2 separate regions of the Homo sapiens genome follow, and region 2 is linked to region 1. A link means that fine-mapping ties the variant in region 1 to the expression of a gene that starts in the linked region. Tissue or cell type: whole blood. Region 1 holds a variant in brackets; the other region holds the start of a gene. All regions are shown on one strand. Distances are between the middles of the regions. Region 1 holds the start of LOC124903372. Region 2 holds the start of TCL6 (T cell leukemia/lymphoma 6).

What was found.
Region 2: TCL6 starts here. The variant in region 1 is fine-mapped to the expression of TCL6 in whole blood (TOPMed, PIP above 0.99).

Annotation. Positions count from the first base shown.
Region 1 is chr14:95,658,372-95,669,822 of GRCh38, reverse strand. It overlaps LOC124903372, which reads right to left and starts at 5,010. Exons shown (of 2, transcript XM_047432042.1): 1 at 4,747-5,010; 2 at 1-1,697. The coding sequence starts at 4,800. The coding sequence ends at 1,326. TCL6 (T cell leukemia/lymphoma 6) reads right to left here. Exons shown (of 8, transcript NR_028288.2): 4 at 7,159-7,343; 5 at 206-272. RefSeq lists enhancers at 2,463-3,109, 3,756-4,403, 6,473-6,552. The variant A/G (reference allele first, on the strand shown) is at 5,205.
Region 2 is chr14:95,647,152-95,657,049 of GRCh38, reverse strand. It overlaps TCL6 (T cell leukemia/lymphoma 6), which reads right to left and starts at 4,953. Exons shown (of 8, transcript NR_028288.2): 1 at 4,824-4,953; 2 at 4,561-4,673; 3 at 2,424-2,541.

The sequences.
Region 1 (11,451 bases):
AGAAATTGCATCTAAGCAGAGGCCTTAAGATGAGGTGGGCAAAGGCAGAAGACATGGAATTCCAGGCAGAGGGAACAGCATACGCAAAGGCAGAAAGGCAAGAGGTGCTCAGCAGGCCCAGGGAGTTGCTAAGAGCTCAGTATAGCTGCAAAGTAGATTGTAAAGTGTGGAAGGCAGCTTCTAAAATAGCTCTCAAGTTCTTCACCTGCAGTTTATCCTTTGCATGGTCCCCTCTCCTTGAATGTAGGTATGACTTGTGCCTTGCTTCTAACCTGTAGAAAACAGGACAAAGGTGACCGGGCGTGGTGGCTCACGCCTGTAATCCCAGCACTTTGGGAGGCCGAGGTAGGCGGATCACGAGGTCAGGAGATGGAGTCCATCCTGGCTAACACGGTGAAACCCTGTCTCTACTAAAAATACAAAAATTAGCTGGGTGTGGTGTTTATTTATTTATTTATTTATTTTTCAACTGAAAAAGCTTAGTAGCCCAGCCCTGTGGTTATCCACTAACTCCAAAGTTATCAACTAGTGCTCAGCTAGTTACCTGCTTATAAACACCAGAATTCTAGCTCAGCTTCAGCAAAGATTAGTCAATAGCTGGCAAAAAGAAACACAGACAGATGGACAAGAGCCAGAGAACACCAGAGACAAGAGCGAGGCTGATTAGGAGGCCAGAGCTGCGAAGCCAGACAGCCAGCAGCCTCTTTCCAGCCCTGTTCCTCCACCACGTCGTCACTCAGGTTTCTCTTTCCTTTGCTGCTTTCCTGGCTCACTTGAATCAATTTACAGGTGACTCCATACACCTGTCTGCCTCTGCACTTCCAACCCCAGTGGGGTCTTCATCCCTATCCAGAGGAGGCTGGGGAGTGAGGATTGGCTTATCCAACTCTGGCTGAGGGCAGCTTCTGGAACAAAGAGGCTGCTTAGAACACGCCCATGGAAAGAAGTCGAATTGAATCCATCAGAATTCCCCACTTGTTGATGCTGGAGTGAAGTGGAGACATTCCATTCCATGAGGCCCATTTTGTAGATGGGGAACTAAGGCTAGAAAACATGTCCCTTGAGCCTTGCTTTTAATGATGACAAAGAGACAGCGGTGTGTAGTACAAAAGGCCTTGAACCAGAGATGCAGAGATCTGGGCTTTACTTGTACCTCTGTCAGGGACGCCCTGGGTGACTGCAGACAAGCCACTTATTCTCTAAGTTTAGGAGAAAATCAGAAATTGCTGATTCATCACTCACTCAGCAAACATTTCTGGAGCCTCTTTGACGTGCCAGGCCTGGGGATAACTATTGAAATATGTGGGCTCCAAACTGTAGCCAGATCACATCACGGAAGTTGGGTTTGGCCCTGCGGCCACCTGTCCGCGTGGCTTTCGGTCACGTTTTCTCACTTGCTGTGTCTTCTTCACATATGTGTAAATGAGAGAAAAGAAGGGCCTGTTTTTCATGCTGCTGTGCAGTTTGAATAGTAACGTAGGATGTGCACAGAGCAGCCCTGGCCTGCAGAGGCTCTCAAGCTGTAGACAGCATTGGTCAATGGACTGCTGCAAAGAACCAGCAACAGGCAGGACATGCAGTAGATCAGGGTCTGGAAACACTTCGTCCGAGCCACACACCTCTGGAAACTTAGCAGGAAGGCTTAATTTGAAACATTTGTGATCATACTTCAGGATGTCACTTGTAATTCCCGTGATCTGCAAAAAGGTGAACGTTCACACTCACATTTAATAGCTTCATTCTAACATCTCGGGTACCCCATAAATACATCACTCTGCACCCACAAAAATTAAAAATAAAAAAATTTTAAGTTGTTTTATGATATAAAAATAGCTTGAATCTAACCAAACTATAGACAAAATCATGAGTTTGATATTCTGGTAACTTTTTGGAAATACATAAATGCATATTAATCATTGCAATTCTCTATCTTTGCAGCAGTTATAGCCTATCGGGGAAAAATTCAGAAAAATAGAAAAGCATTATAGATGGGATGGAATCATTAACAAGAGGTAGATTATGAAAATTTCCAAATGAGGGGCATGAGTAGTAGGGGTGACCTGGGCTTCCAAAGGTGCCTCTGGCCACAGAGTGAGGCAGGAGATTCCAGGTGAGCCCAGACAGGAGCAAGGAGGGGGTTGGGCTTGTGACCAGAGCTCGAGTCTGGGAAGGGCCTCCACTGGCCACCCTGAGCACAATGAAGGTGTGGTACAATACCCAGCAGGGGCCTCACCACGTGCAGACATGGGCCCTCACCCCCTCCTGAGCTTAGAGCCCCCAGGGAGGCAGGCAGGAAGTGGTGTTTGCAGACAGCTTTCAGCAGAGTGCCCAGCAGGTGCCCTTTGTGCAGATGGTACAGTTCCCAGGAGCTCTCTCTCAGTGCCCTGCCCTCCAGCCCCACCCCTGGTTCCAGGGAGGGCCACACTAGGGCAGGATCCAGCAGGACAGCAAGAAGCCAGCTCCCTGCCTGCCTGACTACAAGGTGCCTTTTGGCTCTCAGACAGTGCAGTAGTGGAGCAGTGGAGCTGCAGCCAGCCAGAACCCGGTTCAAATTTCAACTCTGCCTCTTACTAGCCGGCTGACCTGGGCACTTTCTTCCTTTTCTGGCCTCTGTCTCCTTTTCTGTAAAACTGAACATGAATATCTGTCTTGTTGGACATTGCATCCACCCGATGTTTACTGGGCATCAGTTAGGAGTTAGGCATTGTTCCTGCTGTGAGATCCCACTGATGCCTGGGGTGACGGATCATCATACTCAACAGAGCTTTCATTTATCAAGTGCTTCTTCTATACCAGACCCGGGATGAAATGCTTTACAGCTAATATCTCGTTTAATCGTCACCAAAAGCCAAGCAGAGGTCGAATCATCCCATTTAACAGTTCAGAAAAAGAAGTCTCATGAGGTGAAACAAGCTGCCCAAAGAGTTTCAGCTTAGCACAGCACAGCTGGGATGGAACCAAGGCCTGTGGGACACCAGCCTGCTTCCCAGCACCTCCCAAGGGGTCCACACCTGGGACATTCTGGGGAAATGCCTGGGATTAGCCAAGGTCCTTGATCCCCTTCCCACACTGCATTGCACACAGGACGGGGCACATTGAGTGTCCATAACCAGTCAGGAGTGACTGGTGGAGGCTTGAACAGCGTGACCAAGCATTCCACCTCACATCAGGGGTCCTGCCCCTAAATCTCAGCGGGACCGCAGCCAAGTGGCTCCCTGACTGGGCCTGGGCAATGAAGAGATGACAGTTGATAAAGATCTTTGGAGAGTTCTCAGAGCACTGATCAAACATAGAGTCACCATTTGGATCAGAGGGAGCTCGTGTTGCTGGCCTTGGATGCTGGCCTGCCACTCTCTAGCTTTGTGACCTTGGGTAAGTGACTTAACCTCTCTGAGCCTCAATCCAACTCAGTTTTCCTGTCTGTATTCCAGGGATAGTAGTAATGCCTTCCTGACAGAGCTCAGAGGTTAAAGGAGATGATGGAGGCAAAGTGCCAGAGCATGGTGCCAGGCCCCAAAGGGTGCAATGATGTGATGGGATCATAAGAAGAGCGGGTATGGTGGCAGCCCCATTTCCCTGCATCCTCCTGGCTCCAAGCATGGGAGGCAACACCCAGTAAACCTGTGGAATTGAGTTGAATCTACCAACCCCAGATAAGAACCCATGTGCAGTGTCATGAAACCACTTGCAGTTATAGGGTAAAGACCTCAGAGGAAAAAAATATGCTTTGTTGGCCGGGCGCAGTGGCTCACGCCTGTAATCCCAGCACTTTGGGAGGCCGAGGTGGGCAGATCACGAGGTAGGAGATCGAGACCATCCTGGCTAACACGATGAAACCCCGTCTCCACTAAAAATGAAAAAAAAAAAAAAAATTAGCCGGGTGTAGTGGCAGGCGCCTGTAGCCCCAGCTACTCGGGAGCCTGAGGCAGGAGAATGGCGTGAACCGGGGAGGCGGAGCTTGCAGTGAGCTGAGATCACGCCACTGCACTCCAGCCTGGGGGACACAGTGAGACTCCGTCTCAAAAAAAAAAAAAAGCTTTGTCCACAGTCCAGGGTGGGAGGCCAGTAGGGGGCTTTACTGAGCAGGGCAGAATCTGTTTTCTTTCCCTCCATATTAGAGTCAAGACCATGTAGGGAGCTCCAAATGCCACGCCTTTCCCCAGCTGGTGGCTGCTGTTATGCTGAACCCCTATCTACTCCAATGGGGATGGCAGCAGGTTTGAGAGGCTGAAGAAAGGACCCAGGGCTGCTGAAGGAGACATGGAGTTTTACTGGGGCTTACATGCAGGGGAGAGCATCTAGCAGTGGTGGGCTGGGCAGGAGAGCCACACAACTTACAAAAAGCTTGCAGCATATATAGCATCTTCACTTAGCACCCTCCCCCAACAGTGTCCACCTGGCAACATTTACCTAACCCAAAACAAAGGGCCTTGATCCCCTGTACTGTCCGTGTTGCACAGGACGGGACAGGAGCTCAGATGTTCCTCATAGATAAGGAATAGGAATGAATCTCCAGGTTGGCCACTCCCAGATTCCTTAGCTCAGAACTCCAAACCACATTCACCTGCACCTGCCATAAGGGTCATTCTCAGGGGATGCTTAAGTTATTGCTATCAGGTGCGTTCACTGTAAGCGGCTTTTGGGGAAATCACCTGCTGGGTCTGGAGGAGCAGGGCTATCATAGGAGAAGGTCCCCCAGGTTCAGAAGAGCCTGGTAATCTCAAGCATATCACCTCCAGGCCTCACCTTCCCCATGCATCCATCCAGGGGCCTCTTCCTCTGTGTCACTCTGGGCTCCATCCTCTTGGTGCATTTGGAGTCAGACGAGACCTGGGTTCAAATCCTTGGCTGGAGGGATGCAAGATGCACGTGGAAGGAGAACCAATTCATCCTGTCCAGGCTCTTCTAGAGCAGCTGGTCTCCTGCCGACCTGTCTAGCTGACCCTAGCACCAGAGCAAGCTCAGCCAAGGTGGGCCAAGCCAGGCCCCGGTTGGCAGAAACACTCAACTGACTTGACACATGTGGGCAACAATAAGTGCTTGCTACATTTCGGTGTGGCTTGTCATGGAGCAATAGCTCACTGGTGTAACCAAGAGGCAGCAGAGCTGTGCGTGCGGTAAACAAACAGCAGTCCAGCTGCCAAGGAACATTTCATATACGAAGGCAGGAAGCCGTGACAGCACCTGCAGTTTACCAGCAGGGT[A/G]GTTATGAGGCCTGGTGCTGTGGGGGTCCTTCTACCACGAGAGAAGCCAGCCTGGGGACAGAGGACAGAGGAGACCCTATTCCCCACTTGTCCCCTCGTGTGCTCCCACATGGCACAGATATTTGATGCTCAGAGCTGTGCCAGGCATCTTACAAAGGTGAAGGAAAGGAAAACTGTATAAATGGGGATGCCAGCTCAGTGCCCTGATCTGATGAACCAGTGCTGGAAGCTTCTGTTCAGGGATAAAAATAAGCCCTTCTTATTTCAGCTACATTGGCAGGCTTTCTGTTGCCTGCTGCTGAAACTCCTATCTGATGCACAGTGGCTGCCTGGTCCCCACAACTCCCTGATTTCTGCAAGACCAGGCCAGACACCAAGAACCTCCCATTCTGTCTCCATGCCAGAGGTCTGTGCCTAGTTGGTGCACTTCTGAATGCAATTAAAAAGCTTGTTTGAGGCCAGGTGCGGTGGCTCGTGCCTGTAATCCCAGCACTTTGGGAGGCCGAAGCAGGTGGATCACTTGGTCAGGAGTTCAAGACCAGCCTGGCCAACATGGTGAAACCTCGTCTCTACTAAAAATACAAAAATTAGCCTGGCATGGTGGTGGGCACCTGTAATCCCAGCTACTTGGGAGGCTGAGGCAGAAGAATCACTTGAACCCGGGAGGTGAAGGCTGCAGTGAGCCGAGATCGCGCCACTGCATTCCAGCCTGAGTGACAGAGCAAGACTCAGTCTCAAAAAAAAAAAAAAAAATGTGTTTGGTGCTCAGCCCAAATGTGGGACAGTCTGTTTCTATTTTATTTTCTCTCAATTGATTCCTTGTGAAAAGTTCTTAACCTGCTCTTTTAAAATACTCTGTGTCACCTCTCCCAAACAGCACAATCCAACAAGGTGCTGACACTGTTCCAAATTGCTGTCCACTTAAGATTAAAGTCCAAAAAGAAAGGGAGAAAATAAATCACAAGACATGAAACTGGCCTCACCACTGCTGTCCCCTCTTTGGCTCCACACACACTCTCAGACTTTCTGTTTCTGATTGCAGGTGTGTAGCTGGAAGGTGAACTGAGATAGCATGAAAACAGGTGGCATGGGCTGCAGAAAGAGCACTGGGGCAGGAAACCTGGATCCTGCGCTGCTCGGATGCACTTGGCTGTGTGACCTTGGACTTGGCCATCCACTCTCTGGGCTTCGGTTTTCTCCTGTGTTCAGGGAATTCTCACTAAGTCCTCTTCCCATTCTGCTCCTCTGTGAGTTGAGTGAGGATCTTTCTCTTTAATTTCAGCCTCCATCTTGTAAACCAAGAAGTATCTGAGACAGGTCTCAATCGATTTAGAGATTTGTTGTGCCAAGGTTAAGGACATGTCTGGAAGTAAAAAGACACGAAATCACAGAAACAGTCGCTAGTCTGTGCCTTTCTCCAAAGATGATTTTGAGGGCTTTGATATTTAAAGTGGAAAAGTAGGCTGGAGAGGAGAAAGGCAGTGTATGGTCACATGACTGAATCCACATGTTGCAAAGGAAACGGAGTAGGTAGGGGATAGTCAATTACGTATTTGTCTCATGCTCAATAAATCAGCAGTTTACGTAAGATAAGGTGAACATACAGTAGCTACCTGTGGAGCTATTTAACCTTTTATCTGTAGCTATCTACTTAGGAGCAAAAGGAAAGTCAGCTTCTTGCATGACTCAGCTTTTGGCTTTTTTTTTTTTTTTTTTTTTTTGCCTTTTTGGCATAGTGAACTGGGTTCTGAAGTTTTAGTTTTCCTTTCAGAACCTGCAGCTGCAGCTGTGTCCCATGAGTGTGGTAAGGCTTAGGGTGTTTTTGGAGATGAGCAGACCCAAGTTTTAATTCCAACTATGATGCCCAAATGCTAAGTTAATGTTGGACAAGTATTTAACCAATCTGATCTTCAGTTTGTCATCTGTGAATGCGGAACAATAATAATAATAATACCTTCTTTTGATAATTAGAGATAATGCATATGAGATATAAGCACAGAGCAGATGTTCCATGGCTGGTAAATATTCTCCCTCTTCCTCTTTGTGTGGTTGTCTGCTTGCTGTGTGTCTATGGAAGTCAGATGAGCATTTGCCCAGAGGTTGGTAGATGGAGCCCACAAGCTCATAAGAATAAAATAACTAGAATGGAAACAGAAAATTAGATGTTCCATATGTTGTAACTCATTTTTGGCTGGAAATTATAGAGACCTTGGTTGGGAGTGTCATTAGATACTTGGAAAGGATGGGCGATGATTAGCACAGGTGGCTGGAGATGAACTCCCTGAACCGGCCCTGACATCTTGTTAGAGAGAGAAAAGCTCACATAGGTGTGAGCCTAGAATTTCAGTTAATATGCATTTATTCTGTATCTTGTCATCACAAAGTTGAGTTTCGCAGTCTGCTAAGAAGAGCAAAGAACTTCCCAATAATATTGAAAGGTAATAGTCCTAAGGACCTTGAAAAGCTACATTTGTTAAGGAGTTTACTGTAGAATAGCATGCTTGTTCAGTAAAAGTGAAAAACCACCTTTGTCACAGGTGGTTGATTTCACCGGACAGCGCTGGCGATCATTAACCCACCATGACCTCCCACATTCGCCTTCAGTCACCTCCACCTGTTTTTGCCGGATGCAAAGTATCTGTTTGATGCCAGATAAGTATTTGTTTTGCAAATAAGAATAATGTGGCCGGACGCGGTGGCTTACGCCTGTAATCCCAACGCTTTGGGAGGCCAAGGCAGATCACCTGAGGTCAACAGTTCGAGACCAGCCTGGCCTACATGGCAAAACCCTGTCTCTACTAAAAATACAAAAAAGTTAGCTGGAGATGGTGGTGCACACCTGTAATCCCAGCCACTTGGGAGGCTGAGACAGGAGAATCGCTTGAACCCAGGAGGCAGAAGTTGCAGTGAACCGAAATGGTGCTACTGCACTCCAGCCTGGGTGACAGAGTGAGACCACATCTAAAAAAAAAAAAAAAAAAAAAAAAGTTTAAGTTCTAGATCTACAGATGATCCTGGATCGCCCACATAGGCCCTAAATGTCATCACAAATGTCCTTATAAGAGGGACAGAGGGACATCTGACTGCAGAAAAGGAAAGGCAACGTGAAGACGAAAGCAGAGGGAGATCTGAGGATGCTACACTACTGGCTTGGAAGAGAAGCAAGGGGGACGAAGGGCCAAGGAATGCAGCTCTCCAAGCTAGAAAAGTTCAGGAAGCAGATTCTCCCCTAAAGCCTCAGGAGAGAGCACAGCCCTACCTTGGTTTCAGCCCAGTGAAACTCGTTCTGCACCTTTGACCTCCAGAACTACCAGACAATGTTTGAAGGCACTCAGTTTGTGGGATTTGTTACAGCAGCCCTAGGAAGCTGACATCCCTGTTAAGGCTCAGCGTTGTTCCCAGACAGGGGACTGAGAGCAGGATCCATCCAGCGCTGCTCAGATCTTGCTGTTACCTTCAGGAGGTCCCAGGGAAGAGTTTGGAAAAGGGGAGGCTTTGGGTGTGGAATAGTTAAGTGACTTGTCATACAACCACACCAGAGGACGCTGTGTGGGTGTTAAAAATGACATCCCACAGAGCTTGGATGATGCAGGGAAATGCTTAGGATATAATGCCAAACAAAAAGAACAAGGAGGGAGTATACGTAGTAGAATTGGGCTGTGCTAAAAAGGGGGGCAAGTCCGGTCTGAGAGCAAACAAAACAAAATATTGCAAAATGTACCCAAGGGCTATCTCTGGCTGGGGGGACTCTGGCGACGGCTGTTTACATTGTACTCTTCTGTGTAGGGTCTCCTTTAGGAGGGCTCAGGGCTGCAGAGCAGCAGCCGCTAAGTGAGCAAGTTATAGCCAGAAGATTTTCAAATGTCAGCAGATTGGGAGCTCTGAGATAACATCGGAGACCTCCCAGCTGCTGCTGGAACCCTCAGGGTTGGACCATGGGAGGGGAGGAGGGGGAAGGAGAGAGTGTTGGAAGAACTAAGGAGGCAAGTTACAGACAATAATCTGCCAGCAGACAGGTTTTCTAACCCACCTTGCCTGTGGCTGCGGCACTGTTCTCTTTTTGCTGAGGGAAGTGGGGGATACGAGATGTTCGCCTTTCCCATTATCTAGGTCTCTGAATTATTGGGAAACACACATCTAGGCAAACAGCAGGCTCATTTTAGCGAGCACTATTTCACACTGCTGCCAGCTGGGGCTGGATGGGGCTGGCAGGCATGGCAGCCTCCCTGTCTCCAGACCTGGGCTGAGACTATGCCACTGATCCCAGGCTGGAAGGTGACTTCTATCTCCAAAAGAGCTGATCCTAGTTATCTTGTTCTCCACGTGGTTTGGACATGAAGAAGCCCAGGACTGGAGGAAGAGAGAGCAGTGCCGGCAGATCACTGGGTGAAGCTGTGTCTATCCGGTGCCACCGTGACTAATAAATTGGCAGGGTCCTGTGTCCAGAGGAACCCTGGGCTGCCTAGTGGAGATAGCTGTCAGGACGGACCCTTCTAAACCAGGAGCATGGGTCTTGGCTGCTGGGTGAGGAGTGCATCTGCCAGCTCCAGACAGCAGGATCAGAGTGAGGAAGGGTCTTCTCCAAGCTCTGTGCTAATGGGAATCAGGCTGAGAAGGGACTTCCAACCTAGCAGAGCTCAGCTGGAGGCCTGGAGCAGCAGAACTGTCTTTTGGCACTAAAAATTAATAACGTGGAAAGCTGAGAAAGAACGAGGCTGTGAGCCTGCCCACCAGGCAGCCTGGGCAGAAGTCAAAGAATTCTATTTTTATCAAGAAGTGCCACGTTCTATTACACTACTCTAAAAGAGATGCTCATTTGTAACATGGCAAGGAAGTCTCGGTCAGGGGTAGCTCTGAAAGGAAAGGTCTGAGTTGTAGGGTGTGTGTGTGCATATGTGTATGTGCATATGTGTGTGTACATCTGTGTGCATGTGTATGCATACACATATATAAAATATAAATATATATAAAAATATATTTAAATATTTAAATATATTTAAATATATATAAATATGTAAATGTATATATATATAAATATATATGCATGCATGTGTACATGTGTGAGCACCTACAGGGGCTGTTCAGAGAAGCCAGAAAATGTGACTGCAGAGATTTTTAACACCTGCAGCCTGGCTGGACTGGAGGCACGTGCCTTCTGGTCGCTTCCCCTAGGCCAGATAAACAACCCAAGCATCACACCCAGGACCCTGCATATTCACTGCAAACTCCAGAGTCACTGGCCTCCCGTCCAAGTCTGCCCCTCCTGCTCTGGGTCCCACTTAGCCCTGCACAAACTGAGGCACATCTGAGATGCTGGTTTCCCCTCGCCCTGCATTCAAAGTGGGGCCAAATCCTCTCAACCCATTCCTCACCTCCCTCTTTTGACCCACCATCAAAATAGATAGAACACACCACCATCTACCACACTCTTCTCATTTGTTCCCTTTCCTCACCATGCACGGGCTACCTGAACCCCACACCTGAGCCCCATACCTAAGCATCCTCCTTCCTTCCTCCTGGTCTTGTACTTCCAAATCTCAGCAGCCACCATGGCTTTCCAGCTCTGCCCACTGATGCCCCCAAACAGGGCAGACTCTGGACAAATGTGGTAGAATAACTTCCTGCCTCTATCTCCTCCCTACCTCCTCAACTCTATGAAAATGATAGTAAGGGAATGAACTAAATAAAAGCTGTTGACCCACAGGGATGGAGAGAACAGGAGCTCAGGCAATGGCAGACAGGATCAAAGCACCCAACACTTGGGAGCAGCCTCAGAAGAGTTGAGGACAGTGTATGGTAAAGGTGAAGGGGGTGTGGGAAAGTGGAGGGGCAGGGTGGGCATCAAGAACAGAGACTCTCCAATAAATCCTGGGTTTGCAATCATCAGGCACCAAGAAGAACTGGCACTGAAAGCATGAGGTTGACTGAAAGTCAGTATACTGGCTGGGCACCGTGGCTCACGCCTGCAATCCCAACACTTTGGGAGGCTGAGGCAGGAGGATCACATGAGCCCAGGAGTTCAAGACCAACCTGGTCAACATAGGAGACCCCATCTCTACAAAAAATAAATTAGCTGGGCATGGTGGTGTATGCCTGTGGTCCCAGCCACTTAGGAGGCTGAGGCAGGTAGATTGCTTGAGCCTAGGAGTTCGAGGCTGCACTGAGCTGTTATCATGACTCTACGCTCCAACTTGGGCAACAGAATGAGACCCTGCCTCTACAAAAGAAAGTCAGTATACAGTTACCA
Region 2 (9,898 bases), 12 kb after region 1:
AAATAAATAAATAAAAGGTGCAGGTGCAACAGCACAACTCCAGAGGACGCCATTCATAGAATATGGGGTGAACAGTGCCCTGGAGTCGGATGCTGCAGAGGCCCTGATCAGAGGGAGAGAAATCAGGCAATCAATGCTACAGATATTTTTGCAAAGCCAAAGGACACGCGTTTCCAAGTTGAAAGGGCCAGTGAATACCCAGCACAGTGGGTAAAAGAGACTCACAGTAGAGCACATCACTGTCAATGACAATCAGAGGCTGAATGCGGTGGCTCATGCCTGTAATCTCAGCACTTCAAGAGGCTGAGGCTTGAGAATCCTCAGTGAGAAGTTGGGCTCACCTTCTGTATTAGTCAGGGTTCTCCAGAAAAACAGAAACAATAAAATAGATAGATGGATGGATAGATGGATGGATGGATGGATGGATGGATGGATGGATGGATGGATAGATTGATAGGTAGAGAGACAGACACAAGACATATACAGATGGATATACATTTATTATAAAGGATTGGCTCATGCAATTGTGGAAGCCAAGAAGTCCTATAATCTAGAAAGATTGCTTGAGGCCAGGAATTTGAGACCAGCCTGGGCAATATAGCGAGATCACATCTCTACAAAAAATTTAAAAATTAGCCAGCCATAGTTGCACATGCCTGTTGCCCCAGATACTCAGGAGGCTGAGATAGGAGGATCACTTAGGCCCAGGAATTCGAGGCTGCAGTGAGCTAGGATTGCACCACTGCACTCCAGCCAGGGCAAAAGAGTGAGACCCTGTCTTTTAGAAAAAAAAATTAAAATATTAAAGAATGTCAGAGAAAAAAAATAGTTCAATGATAGTAATAGCTAACATTAATTCAGTTCATTAAATTCCAGGAACTATTTTAAGTATTTTATGTGTAACTTCTAGTGAGAAAAAACTGGTCTCATTAATAAACATGTTGGAATTTAAAATGCCATCAAATCTCAATGGCCATGTTGAGTGCTAGAAGATGAGGGGGCAATGCCTTCAAAGTTCTGAGGGGAAATATTTCCCACCCTAGAGTTTGTGAACCAAAAAATATCTGAGACAGGTCTCAATCCATTTAGAAGTTTATTTTGCCAAGGTTAAGGACATGCCTGGAAGAAAAGGACACAGAATCACAGAAACAAGTCTATGATCTGTCCCTTTCTCCAAAGATGATAGTGAGGGCTTCAATATTTAAATGGGGGAAACAGACATGGAAAAATTCATCTCTGGAGGGGATAGAGGAAGGGTATGGTAATCCACACATTGCAAGAGGAGAAGAGCAGCTAGGGAATAGTCAGTTACATATCTGTCTCCTGCTCAGTAAATCAGCACTTTACATAAGATAAGGTGAACATGGAGTAGCTACCTGTGGAGATATTTAATCTTTTATCTGTAGCCATCTACTTAGGAGCAAAAGAAAAGGCAGTTTCTTGCATGACTCAGCTTTCAGCTTCTTTTTTTTTTTTCCTTTTGGCATACTGAATTGGGGTCCTGAGTTTTTATTTTCCTTTCACAAGTTCAACATCCAGTCGCATTATTAATCAAAGGTTAGGGTCAAACAAAAACATTGTCAGATAAGGAGGGGCTCAAAAAATGGGTCTCCTGTGCACCCTTTCTTAGGAAGCTACTGGAGAACAGGTTTTAGCAAAAGAAGATAATAAGAAAGAGAAAAATGCATGTTAAAAGATAATTTTCAAAAACAGGTTAAATGATAACTCAATATAGATATAAAAATGAATATGTGCTGTAACAGTCCATTTGCACACTGCTATAAAGAACTACCTGAAACTGGGTAATTTATAAAGGAAAGAGGTTTAATTAACTCACAGTTCCACATCGCTGGGGAGACCTCAGGAAACTTACAATCATGGCAGAAAGCGAAGGAAAAGCGAGCACCTTTTTCACAAAGTGGCCAGAGAGAGAGAGAGAGAGAGAGAGAGAGAGAGAGAGAGAGAGAAGGGGGAACTGCCAAACACTTTTAAACCATCAGATCTCGTGAGAACTCATTCACTATATGGGAACACCATGGGGAAAACCACCCCCCATGATCCAATCATCCCCTACCAGGTCCATCCCTTGACACACAGGGGGATTACGATTCAAGATGAGATTTGGTGGGGACACAGAGCTAAACAATATCACGTGCTGCTCAAGATTATGTTTAACTCCTCAGTGAAGAAACTGAAGAGGTGTGACAGCCAATTCAAAGGAGAATCTGAAGGACAGGCACATTTATTGATCAGAAATATTGAAATGGGCTGGGCACAGTGGCAAATGCCTGTAATCCCAGTAAGTTGGGAGGCCAAGATGGGAGGATCACTTGAGCCCAGGAGTTTGAGACCAACCAGGGAAACACAGGGAGAGCCCATCTCTATAATTTTTTTTTTAATTTGCCAGATATGATGACACGTGCCTGTAGTCTTAGCTGCTTGGGAGGCTGAAGTGGGAGGATCTCTTGAGCCCAGGAGGTTGAGACTACAGTGAGCCGTGATTGCACCACTGCACTCTGGCCTGGCACAGAGGGAGATAACCTAAAAAAAAAGAAAAGAAGGAAGAGAAGAGAAATATTGAAATGAATGTGTAAAATGGAAGCAAACTAGGGGATTTGGGGGGAAGTGAGGAAGGGTTGTCTCTCTTCAAAATATAAGCATTTGCATATCCATAGACAAGAATTATTTTTCATTTCTATCGGTTATCTGTAGCTTTCAGAATGGTAAAATAGGTCCCATAGAATTGGAATCAGATAACATGGAAGAGTATGCCCTAGACAGAGAAATATTCTGTTCCTTGCCTCCCACTGAAGCAGAGTGTTTTCTACAAATGCAATCCAGGTAAAGGAGAATACCTGTTAGGAAGCCTGGGAAGAGCATTCCGGGGTGGGGTTGGGATGGGCTGAGAGATGCCAATCAACTTGTGAATACACAGCTAAACAAACTCAACAAAACATGATTTGCTTTTGTTTTTTTGAGACAGAGTCTCACTCTGTCACCCAGGCTGAAGTGCAGTGGCATGATCTTGACTCACTGCAACCTCCACCTCCTGGGTTCAAGCAATTCTCCTTCCTCATCCTCCCAAGTAGCTGGGACTACAGGTACCTGCCACCACGCCTGGCTAAGTTTTTTATATTTTTTAGTAGAGACACAGTTTCGCCATGTTGGCCAGCCTGGTCTTGAACTCCTGACCTCAACACCATGACTGGCCTAAACAAAATATGTTTTAAAAGTCTTCTCCCAGGCTGGGCATGGTGGCTCCCACCTGTAATCCCAGAACTTTGAGAGGCTAAGGCAGGGGTATTGCTTGAACACAGGAGTTCAATACCAGCCAGGGCATCATACTGTGACCCCCATCTCTATAAAAATAAAATAAAAATCGTATCCCTGTAATCCCACCAATTTGGGAGGCTGTGGTGGTAGGATCACTTGAGGCCAGAAGTTTGAGACCAGCCTGGGCAACACAGTAAGACCTCCATCTATACAAAAAGTTTTAAAATTAACCAGGCATGGTGGCGCATGTGTGTAGTCTCAGCTACTTGGGAGGCTGAGAAGGGAGGATCATGTGAGCCCAGGGAGGTAGAGGCTGCAGTAATCCATGATTGCACCACTGCACTCCAGCCTGGACGATAGAGTGAGATCATTAACAAATAAAAACAGTCAAGCTCTGTAAAATATTTGAAGAGATTTATTCTGAGCCAAATATGAGTGACCATGGCCTGTAACACAGCCCTCAGGAGATCCTGAGAACTATGCCCAAGGTGGTCGGGGTGCAGCTTGGTTTTATACATTTTAGGGAGACATGAGATGTCAATCAAATACATTTAAGAAATACATTGGTTCTGTCCAGAAAGGTGGGACAACTTGAATTGTTGGGTGGAGGTTGGGGGCTCCCAGGTTACAGGTAGATTTAAAATTGACTGGTTGACAATTGGTTAAGTTTATCTAAAGATCTGGGCTCAATAGAAAGAAAATGTCTGTGCTGTGATAGGAGGTTGTGGAGACCAAAGTTTTACCATGCAGATGAAGCCTCCGGGTAGCAGGCTTCAGAGAAAATAGATTGTAAATGCTTCTCATCAGAGAGGTATAATGAGTCCTGTCTGACCTCTACTTTCCATCATGGCCTGAACCAGTCTTTCAGGTTAAAAGTACCCTGGCCCAGGAGGAAGTCCATTCAGATGGTTGCAGGGAGGGCGGGGCTTAGAATTTTATTTTTGGTTTACATCCTGTCTCAAAAGAAAAAAAAAAAGAATAAAAGAGTTTTTGGTTTACACCCTGTCTCAAAAAAAAAAAAATGAAAGAAAAGAAAAATCTCAAGGACATCTAAAAGCTGATAAGACAGAAATTACCAGGCCAAAAATAAAAGGGAAGTAGAATGCAGAAAGGGAAAAAAAACAGAATGGAAGCTGCTTTTTCCCTGAGAGCTTTTTCAGAACCTGAAAATCAGAACTTGTTTGAGCCTCCCGGAGACTGGTGGAGAAAGAAGTCCAGCCAGGCCCTGCCCAACTCTAAAGGAAAACCCAAACTTGTCGATATTTGATGAGACTATAAATCGCTTGCCTCTTTTCACTCTCTGGTGCTCCAGCAGCACAGCCCCACACCAACCTTCATCTGGAGTGTCTCAAGACCTTCTGGAATCTTCTCCCACACATACCTCCTTACACAGGTCCATTCTGTGAAAATAAGCAATTCAAAATCTAAGCTGTTGGAACTTTAAAATATTTCGAGCCTTAAGGGAATTTGATCATGGGACCTGAGTCATGTAAACAGGCAGCTGCAACCTTTGTTTCTCTGATTATAGATTAGCCTTTTTCCTTACTTACATTGTTGTGTAAAATGTCGTATATGACTGAAGCGTTCCAGGGAAGACCCCTTTCCTCTTCACTGTTGATCTTCATTATAGATTAACTCCCTCTTTCCTCTCTGACAGAGACTTCATGACCATCACATTGTCTGGGATAGAATGTTAAACACATTCTTAAATTGGAAAGGAAATGAAAACAAGCTGTAGAGAAAAGAAAACAAGGTGGAGGCAGGGGAACAACCTATAATTAATTATAGGTTGTAACTCATAAACCAGCCTTGCATAGAAAATGTTAAACAAGAAAGTTAAAACAAGAAAAGTTATACAAGAAAATGTTCTACAAGGTTACTAAATGTCTTTGCTTTCTGCCTATGTAAGCAAGACTTTAACTTTTAACTTCAGGGCCCTGGCCCCATTTTCCTAGAGTCTGTGTTTCTCAGATGGCCATTCCCAGCTTTTGGCTTGAATAAACTCTTTAAAACTGGATTCTGGGCTGGGTGCAGCGGCTCACGCCTGTAATCCCAGCACTTTGAGAAGCTGAGACAGGAGAAATCACTTAAGCCCAGGAGTTCGAAACCAGCCTGGTCAATAAAGTGAGACCGATTAAAGAGAAGTAAACTTAAAAACGAACAAAAACAACTTTGTTTTTAAAACTTAAAAACTTAAAAACAACGAAAACCCTGGATTCTGATCCTTTCAATTACTTTATATTGACAATTCTACTATGGGTGCTGCCCAATCAGCCTTGTAAAGCACAGGGCTGACCACTTCAACTCCCTGCTGAGGGTTGAATCTGGAATAAAATCCAGATTCCAGAGCTACGGTGCCCTTAGATCTGGGGCTGTTGCTTTTGTACTTCTGTTTTTCCACTTTACTTAGCTGAAGCACAATCCCTACAGCAAGCTAAGAAAGGAAAAGGTCCATTCCAAAACCCTTCGCTCCCTAGACCACTGCTCTGTGTGCAGACAACGAAAACAGCCGAGAGTTCACACAAAAGGGAAGGACTAACTGCCCGGGGCAGGCTTCAAGGAATGCCTGTTAAGCCCCAGGGAGGAAGTGGCTGTTGACTTGGGAAGAGTCCGTTGGGTAGTCAAGGGCTAAGGTGGTGGTTGACATGAAGGCAAATTTTCCATGCCCTGGTGAGAAGTTGGAATCCTTGCTGTGAACGTTGGGTAGTACAGTTTGCAGGACCATTTGCTTGGCTATTGGGTCCCACCTGTTGACAGGTGCCAAGCCTGATTTTCCTTGGCCTTCCCTCCTGATTTAGCTGAACACCAACCTTCTCAACACAACCCCGAAGTACACCTTGCTCAGTTTTTAACAGAGCTGCTAGATTTCAAGGCATGATTCTCAGCACTGTGTCCGGAATTGGTGGGTTCTTGGTCTCACTGACTTCAAGAATGAAGCCGTGGACCCTCGCGGTGAGTGTTACAGCTCTTAAGGTGGCGTGTCTGGAGTCTGTCCCTTCTGATGTTCAGATGTGTTCGGAGTTTCTTCCTTCTGGTGGGTTCGTGGTCTCGCTGGCTCAGGAGTGAAGCTGCAGACCTTCGCGGTGAGTGGTACAGCTCTTAAGGTAGCGTGTCTGGAGTTGTTCATTCCTCCCGGTGGGCTCGTGGTCTTGCTGGGCTCAGGAGTGAAGCTGCAGATCTTCGCGGTGAGTGTTACAGCTCATAAAAGCAGCGTGGACCCAAAGAGTGAGCAGTAGCAAGATTTATTGCAAAGAGCAAAAGAACAAAGCTTCCACAGTGTGGAAGGGGACCCGAGCGGGTTGCCAATGCTGGCTCGGGCAGCCTGCTTTTATTCTCTTATCTGGCCCCACCCACATCCTGCTGATTGGTATAGGGATAAGCAAGTACCTAGCCACCACCATCTTTGCTCCCAGCGTGGCTCACCTGCCTAGCTCAAACCTTCATGGAGCTGTGATCTGTACCCCAGGATACAAACAAAAGTGGGCACCATCCCATGGTCCATATCAAATTCATGACCAGCTCCCAGAGGACCCTCCTGCTGCCATGCTGATCCTCAGGCTGCAGACCTGCTTGACTCTTCACACCTGGCTACTACTGCACTCCAGGATTCTCAATATGACCCCTCCATCCACCCAGCTGCCAGGACCAGAAACCCTGGCCATGCAGTAAGAATTCACTCAACAAACACTGAGCCCCAACTCTGGTCAGGCACTGGGGACAAATCAGATGTGGCTCTACCCTGCTGCAGCTTGCAGTGTGACTGGGAGTGATGACGGTCCCTAGCCTCAGCCTGTCACCTTGCATCCGTCAGTCCCACATCAGCCCGTTTACCTCAGGCTCAGATTGTCCATCGCAGGGACCATGCAGCTCAGTGTTGGCCCTGCCTCTGGGCTTGCCCCTCCAGCTCCCCCTTCACTCTGCTTCCAGAGATACATTGCCCATTCTAATTTAATTTTACCTCTTCCCAAATAAAACTCCTCAGTAGATGCCAATTGTTTTTAGGATAAAATTAACCACCTTGTTTTGGCACCCACAGGACTGCATGACCCTCATGCCAGGCCCCCAGCTCAGACATGTTGGTTCAGATGGAGCACCTGGCAGTTCCTTGAATGGGTCACACCCATCACACCTCACACTGCTGCCATGCTGGCCTTGTGCCATGAATGTCCCGCCTCCTCCTGCATGGTGCCTTGGTCAGATAGGCTTCGACTTGTCTCCCATATTTCAGAAAGTCTTCCCTGCCCCTCCAAACCAGGCTCCATGCCCTCTGGTTCCCCATAGCGCCCAAGCCACGCTCTGCAACAGCACACATCGTACTGAATGGTAAATATTTACAGTCTGTCTTCTACACTAGACCATGAGGGCCTTGAGGACGAAGACAATAAAGCCATTCATTTCTGCATCATCAGAAACTAGCCCAGCACTCAGTATATATGTACCTGGTGAATATTTACTATATGAATGAATGTAATGATTAAGTAATGTGTCTAGACTTCATGTTTGGCCCACCGGCACTAATAATACCTCCTTAATCTTTCTCTTCTGACACTCAACTTATGACCCCCTGACTTGGATTCCCATTAAGGACTGAAAGTTTGTGTTTCCCCCCAATTCCTAGGTTGACACCCTGACTTCCAATGTGACTGTGTTTGGAGGTAGCACCCTCAAAGGTAGACAGCAGCAGTTTATTGATCCTGGGCCACTTTCCAGAGACCACTCTCCTAGGACAGACCATTGAACTCTTATGGGTCCTCCTGGGACCAGTCACAGCAATTTGGATTTATCTACCCCAGAAGGTAAATGGGTCAAAACAACACATTAATTAGATTAACTCCAAGGCAAAATTCTGTCTCTTTTTTTAACTTTTTATTGAGAAATAATGGTAGATTTGCATACAGTTGGAAGAAATAATATGAGAGATTCCATATATTCTTCATTCACTTTTCTCCTATGGTTCTCCTTGGTTTCATCATAACCAAGAAAGCCCTGGTTGATAATCCACTGTATTCAGATATGACCCATCTTATTAGATATGATCCACTGTATCAGATTTCCCTTTACATGCACTTATTTGTGTGTGTGCGTGTGTACGTGCACATTTAGTTATATGCAATATATCACATGCACAGATTCATGTAATCACCACCACAATCAAGATACAAAACAGTTCCATCAAAGGGACCCCTCAAGCCACCCTTCTATTGCCAGAGCCACCTCCTCCCCACTCGCCTGGCAAGTACTAATCTAGTCACCATTTCTATACTTCTGTTCTTTCAAGATTGCCATCAAAATGCAATCATACAGTATATAACATTTTCGAATTGACATTATCCACTCAGCATAATTATCTGGAAATTCATCCAAATTGTTGTATCTGTTAAGAGTTCACTCCTCATTATCAATGAATAGTATTCCATGGTATGCACATACAACAGTTTAACCATTCACCTGTGCAAGGAAATTTGAATGGCTTCCAGTCTCGATTTTGAATACAGTTGCTAGGAACATTTGGGTACAGGTTTTGTGTGAACATCAGTTTTTATTTCTGGGTTTATGGTAGTTGCATGTTTACTTTTACAAGAAACTGCCAAGCTGTTTTCCAAAGTGGCTGTACCATTTTATACTCCCACCAGCAACGTGGGAGAGATCTAGTTTTTCCACATTCTTGCCAGCATTTGGTGTCTTCATTATTTTGTATTCTAGCCATTCTGATAGGTGTATAGGGGTATCTCGTGATTTTAATTTGCACTCATTTAATGGCTAATGAGGTTGGACATGTTTTCATATGGTTATTTACCATCTCTATATCCTCTTTGGTGAAATGTCTGTTCACATTTTTTCCTCATTTTCTAAGTAGATTGGTTTTTTACTGTTGAGCTTTGAGCATTCTTTGTATATTCTAGCAACTAGGAATATGGGCTCTATCTGGAAGGAATTCTGATGGATATAGTTACTTAGCTATTACATCACTTTATATACAGAGTTTGGCAACCAAATTTTCAAATCAGGAATCCAGGGAAGAAGAAAACAATGAGTAAGAGAAGTCCTCAGTGTGGAAATTTTGAGAATGGCTTACAATGTCTCAGTATCTCAGACTGCTGGCTTCTGAGGAGCCCCACTAAGACCCTGCTGTCCCCATGTGGGCCTGTCTGGGGCAGGCAGCCTGATTCTTATCCATCAGGTATCAACATCCTCAGTGACATGGGGCAGACATCCCTGACACCATTGCCAATCAAAGCCCATTACCAGCCCTGCTGTCCCACCCGCCATCACTGTCTTTCTTGTGCAGGTAGCTGGCATGGGAGACACAGAACAATTTATGAGCCACAGCCTCAGGGCTTGGTTTGGCCAACAGAATCAGAAATCCAGCTTGAAGGCTGCTGCTATATTTCACCCTTCCACTTCCCTTTGAACACGTTTCAGAGCTATTGATCTTAAAAGTAGAAGATTAGTCACTTCAAAATGAGGCTCAGAGAGTGTGCTACAGAGGAGAGCTGTTCTGAGGATTACAGGCAGCTGCCCCTCCTCCTTCTACTCCTCCACTCCAGCATCCTCATCTAGGCCCCTGGGGCAGGTCTCCCAACTGGAAACTCCTCAACGGTGAGGGCAGGACAATTAAAAGAAG